Linked DNA regions of Homo sapiens: region 1 is linked to region 2. The links come from fine-mapping of genetic effects on gene expression. A gene starts in region 2. The other region holds a variant in brackets. All regions are shown on one strand. Distances are from middle to middle. Region 1 overlaps LINC02811 (long intergenic non-protein coding RNA 2811). Region 2 holds the start of OXCT2 (3-oxoacid CoA-transferase 2).

Region 1 (2,904 bases), 38 kb before region 2:
CTGGAACCCAGGAGGCAGAGGCTGCAGTGAGCCAAGATCACGCCACTGCACTCCAGCCTGGGCAACACAGCAAGACTCCATCTCAACAACAACAAAAAATAGATCTAGATGTGTATGTGTCTGAACACACACATTGACGTAGTTCCTTGTTCTGTCTGCTGAGACTGCCTGAAATCAGTGGCACTCTGGCAGCACTGAACATCTTTGGCGCCCATTATAGATGGCATTCTCAGTGCTGGACTAGGGCTCCTTGTGGGCTGGAGCAAGAAATGTACAAGATGAACCTAGAATACCTTGCTGTGCCAGGAAATAAATAAATGCTCAAAGAATTATGAAGACACACTAAAGGGCGCAGCTGCCAACTTGAAGCATCTTCCACTGGCCAAATCTAAGATAGTATGACTTTCAAAATAGGTATCAAGTAATGGATTGTAGTTCATTGAGAAAAATAGGAATCCACGTGTTTATATGATATAAATAGATAAATGAATAAATACATTGGGGAGAATGGAAAGCTCTGTTTCGTCATAGAATAAGAATATTAACTAATAAATGTAAAAAAATGTTGAAATTAGAAAAACCTTGGCCTAGAGCAGTGGTTCACACCTGTAATCCCAGCACTTTTGGAGGCCGAGGTGGGTGGGTCACCTGAGGTCAGGAGTTCGAGACCAGCCTGACCAATATGGTGAAACCCCATCTCTAGTAAAAATACAAAAATTAGCTGGCTGTGGTGGTGGGTGTATGTAATCCCAGCTACTGCGGAGGCTGAGGCAGGAAGATTGCTTGAACCCAGGAGGCAGAGGTTGCAGTGAGCCGAGATTGTGCTACTGCACTCCAGCCTGGGCAACAGAGTGAGACTCTGTCTTAAAAAAATAAAAATAAAAATAAAAAAAGGGAAAATCTTCACTTGGCAACCATCGTAGTAGTAATTGATTTGGGTTGAAACTGGGTGAAGCAACTTTGATATGGAACAGGATATTTTTATACTCTCAGAACATCTCCCTATGAAATATTTATTCATTACTCATCACTTAACACGTACTAAATACTGTTAACTTTCCAGTGGAGAAACCTGGCAGACATCATCTTAGCCAAGTGGTAAACATTAACATCAGCAGTAATGGGACAAGTTGACATTGTGTGACTCCTAATATGGTACACTGAGAAGAATGTCGCATCGTTTCTGTGGTATTCCTGCCAGAGATGCATAAATCATGAGGACACAGCAGACAAATCCAAACTGAAGACAACCTACAAAGTCATTGACCTGTATTTTTCAAAAATCTTGGCCAGAGAAGGGAAGCCTGAAGAATTGTTCTAGAATAAATTAGACTGAAGAGACTCCTTGAAGGCGACTGAATTGGATGCTGGGCCTGTAAAGGTAATTTGGGGGACAATTAGTGTAATTTGTTGTTGTTGTTGCTTGCTTTTTAGTTTTTTTAAATTTTTATTTATTTATTTATTTTATTTTTTATTTTTATTTTTATTTTTTTGGTATTTATTGATCATTCTTGGGTGTTACTCGCAGAGGGGGATTTGGCAGGGTCATAGGACAATAGTGGAGGGAAGGTCAGCAGATAAACATGTGAACAAGGGTCTCTGGTTTTCCTAG[A/G]CAGAGGACCCTGCGGCCTTCCGCAGTGTTTGTGTCCCTGGGTACTTGAGATTAGGGAGTGGTGATGACTCTTAAGGAGCATGCTGCCTTCAAGCATCTGTTTAACAAAGCACATCTTGCACCGCCCTTAATCCATTTAACCCTGAGTGGACACAGCACATGTTTCAGAGAGCACGGGGTTGGGGGTAAGGTTATAGATTAACAGCATCCCAAGGCAGAAGAATTTTTCTTAGTACAGAACAAAATGGAGTCTCCAATATCTACTTCTTTCTACACAGACACAGTAACAATCTGATCTCTCTTTCTTTTCCCCACATTTCCCCCTTTTCTATTCGACAAAACCGTCATCATCATCATGGCCCGTTCTCAATGAGCTGTTGGGTACACCTCCCAGACGGGGTGGCGGCCGGGCAGAGGCGCCCCCCACCTCCCAGACGGGGCAGTGGCCGGGCGTAGGTGCCCCCCACCTCCTGGACGGGGCAGCTGCCGGGCGGAGGGGCTCCTCACTTGGCAGACGGGGTGGCTGCCGGGCGGAGGGGCTCCTCACTTCCCAGACAGGGCGGCTGCCGGGTGGAGGGGCTCCTCACTTCTCAGACGGGGCGGCCGGGCAGAGACGCTCCTCACCTCCCAGATGGGGTGGCGGTCGGGCAGAGACACTCCTCAGTTCCCAGACGGGGTCACGGCCGGGCAGAGGCGCTCCTCACTTCCCAGACGGGGTGGCGGCCAGGCAGAGGCTGCAATCTCGGCACTTTGGGAGGCCAAGGCAGGCGGCTGGGAGGTGGAGGTTGTAGCTAGCCGAGATCACGCCACTGCACTCCAGCCTGGGCAACATGGAGCACTGAGTGAGCGAGACTCCGTCTGCAATCCCGGCCCCTCGGGAGGCCGAGGCAGGCAGATCACTCGCGGTCAGGAGCTGGAGACCAGCCCGGCCAACACGGTGAAACCCCGTCTCCACCAAAAAATGCAAGAACCAGTCAGGTGTGGCGGCGCGCGCCTGCAATCCCAGGCACTCTGCAGGCTGAGGCAGGAGAATCAGGCAGGGAGGTTGCAGTGAGCCGAGATGGCGGCAGTACAGTCCAGCCTCGGCTTTCACAACTTTGGTGGCATCAGAGGGAGACCGGGGAGAGGGAGAGGGAGAGGGAGAGGGAGACGAGGGAGATGAGGGAGACGAGGGAGACGAGGGACGAGGGAGAGGGGAGAGGGCAGAGGGGAGAGGGGAGAGGGAGAGGCTTTTTAGGTTTTTTTGAGACAGGAACTCACTCTGTCACCCAGGCTTGAGTGCAGTGGCGTGA
Region 2 (2,904 bases):
AAAAGATAGATGAAGGGCAGGTTTGAGGTGGGTGGCCAAGGGTTCTCTTTTGGCTGGAATATTACTGACCCCCCTGGGATGTTACTGAGATCACTGGTCCTCATGGAAATGCCATTACAGGGACCGGTGAGTGTGAAGACCCAGGCGAGGGAGGTGCTGGCATGTAAGTGGATTTAAAGCATGGGATGGGACCAGGTCATCTAGGGAAGGAGGGTAGTGATGGAGAAGAAAGAGGGCCTGGCCCAGAGCCCTGGGACCTCCAACATCCAGAGACCTCACAAGGAGGGGCCACAGAGAGCCCACAGAGACCAGCCAGGGAGGGAGCAGGACACCTGGAGGATGAGGTGATCTAGACGCCAGAGTAAAGTGTTTCCAGAAGCAAGGGTTTGTCATTTGTGTCCTGCTGTGGGCACTGAAGGCAAGAACAGAGAAGTGACCAAGGGTTTTGCCATCACAGAGGTTGTTGATGACCTAAATATCCGTGGAGTGTGGGTCTGACTGAGGAGGTGGAGGGAGACAGGCAGTGGAGGCAGGAGACAGCTCTTTCCAGAACCTTTGCTGGGGAAGGGGAGCAGAGACATGGGCTGGGGCTGGAGAGAACCCGGGACAAGGCAGGTCCTTTCCAGGTGAGGAGACGCCTGCACGCTGCTGTGGTGATGCAGTGATTCTGTGCAGAGGGAAGAAAACTGCAAAATTCCGCACAAGTTGGAGCAGGGAGCTGGAGTGGGGGAGGTGGAGAGGGCGGGGGGATGCAGAGGACAAGACGGGGGGCCTCTTCAGAGCAGGGACCCTTCCTGATGGAGGTGAGGGATACTGTCCCCACTGTCGCAGTGAGGGGTGAACCTGAGCTCTGGGAGGCTGTAGTGGGGCAGGCACTCACTCTCCGGGTTGTCACAGGATTAAAGGAGGGTGCTTGGCACAGAGTGATGCCCAGTGAAGGTGTTCATGAGCGTCGGTGTCACCCAGCGGCGCCTGCTCATTGGACACTTGGTGTCTTTAATGAGCTGGGGAAGCTGGGGGGAAGCTTGGGCGGGGTGGTTGGAGTTTGTGTCTGAGGCTCCACTGGGGCAGGAGGGGACCTAGCCTGTGCCCTTCTCGCGGAGCCTGACCTCAGCTCTGTCCTGCGCCCGGGCCTGTGCGCTGGACACGGAGGACTGACTCGGGGGCCCCCAGCCCAGGGCGGAGCCGGCCCCCTCCCTGTTGCGGGTCGCGGGCCTAGCCTAGAGCCTGCGCCTGGCCGGGGAGACCTGCTGGGAGGGAGTGCGTCAGGGCGCGGGCGCCCGCCCTGCTCTGTGACGCGCGGCCCGAGGCGCACGCAGGGCTCACACCACCTGTCCTGGCCTCCGACCCGGGCCGACTATGGCGGCGCTGCGGCTCCTGGCGTCAGTGCTCGGGCGCGGGGTCCCCGCCGGCGGCTCAGGGCTCGCGCTGTCCCAGGGCTGCGCCCGCTGCTTTGCCACCAGTCCCCGGCTCCGTGCCAAGTTCTACGCGGACCCGGTGGAGATGGTGAAGGACATCTCTGACGGGGCGACCGTCATGATCGGGGGCTTCGGGCTCTGCGGGATCCCCGAGAACCTGATCGCCGCGCTGCTCAGGACCCGCGTGAAAGACCTGCAGGTGGTCAGCAGCAACGTGGGCGTGGAGGACTTCGGCCTGGGCCTCCTGCTGGCCGCCAGGCAGGTCCGTCGCATCGTCTGTTCCTACGTGGGCGAGAACACCCTGTGCGAGAGCCAGTACCTGGCAGGAGAGCTGGAGCTGGAGCTCACGCCCCAGGGCACCCTGGCCGAGCGCATCCGCGCGGGGGGCGCCGGGGTGCCCGCCTTCTACACCCCCACGGGCTACGGGACCCTGGTCCAGGAAGGGGGCGCCCCCATCCGCTACACCCCGGACGGCCACCTGGCGCTCATGAGCCAGCCCCGAGAGGTGAGGGAGTTCAACGGCGACCACTTCCTTTTGGAGCGCGCCATCCGGGCAGACTTCGCCCTGGTGAAAGGGTGGAAGGCCGACCGGGCAGGAAACGTGGTCTTCAGGAGAAGCGCCCGCAATTTCAACGTGCCCATGTGCAAAGCTGCAGACGTCACGGCGGTGGAGGTGGAAGAGATCGTGGAGGTGGGGGCTTTCCCCCCAGAAGACATCCACGTTCCTAACATTTATGTAGATCGCGTGATAAAGGGGCAGAAATACGAGAAACGAATTGAGCGCTTAACGATCCTGAAAGAGGAAGATGGAGACGCTGGAAAGGAAGAGGACGCCAGGACGCGCATCATCAGACGCGCAGCTCTGGAATTTGAGGACGGCATGTACGCCAATCTGGGCATAGGCATCCCCCTGCTGGCCAGCAACTTCATCAGTCCCAGCATGACTGTCCATCTTCACAGTGAGAACGGGATCCTGGGCCTGGGCCCGTTTCCCACGGAAGATGAGGTGGATGCCGACCTCATCAATGCAGGCAAGCAGACGGTCACGGTGCTTCCCGGGGGCTGCTTCTTCGCCAGCGACGACTCCTTCGCCATGATCCGAGGGGGACACATCCAACTAACCATGCTTGGAGCCATGCAGGTTTCCAAATACGGCGACCTGGCGAACTGGATGATCCCTGGCAAGAAGGTGAAAGGCATGGGCGGTGCCATGGACTTGGTGTCCAGTCAGAAGACCAGAGTGGTGGTCACCATGCAGCACTGCACAAAGGACAACACCCCCAAGATCATGGAGAAATGCACCATGCCGCTGACCGGGAAGCGGTGCGTGGACCGCATCATCACCGAGAAGGCCGTGTTTGACGTGCACAGGAAGAAAGAGCTGACGCTGAGGGAGCTCTGGGAGGGCCTGACGGTGGACGACATCAAAAAGAGCACGGGGTGTGCCTTTGCTGTGTCCCCGAACCTCAGGCCCATGCAGCAGGTG

The links. PIP is the estimated chance that this variant, and not a neighbour inherited with it, causes the effect. A credible set is the group of variants that fine-mapping cannot tell apart.
Region 1: its variant is the best candidate, but not a certain one, in a credible set for the expression of OXCT2 in whole blood (TOPMed, PIP 0.51).

What each region holds. Positions count from the first base shown.
Region 1 is chr1:39,807,531-39,810,434 of GRCh38, reverse strand. LINC02811 (long intergenic non-protein coding RNA 2811) reads left to right here. Exons shown (of 4, transcript NR_186710.1): 3 at 1,064-1,381. LOC130932201 (a long non-coding RNA gene) reads right to left here. Exons shown (of 4, transcript NR_186719.1): 3 at 2,237-2,433; 4 at 1,000-1,373. Among named protein-coding and RNA genes, the nearest start is that of LINC02811, 8.5 kb to the left of the region's middle. The variant A/G (reference allele first, on the strand shown) is at 1,613.
Region 2 is chr1:39,769,711-39,772,614 of GRCh38, reverse strand. OXCT2 (3-oxoacid CoA-transferase 2) reads left to right here and starts at 1,267. Exons shown (of 1, transcript NM_022120.2): 1 at 1,267-2,904. The coding sequence starts at 1,360. The region is part of intron 3 of BMP8B (bone morphogenetic protein 8b); the gene reads left to right. RefSeq lists enhancers at 548-1,220, 1,221-1,894 and a silencer at 1,235-1,334.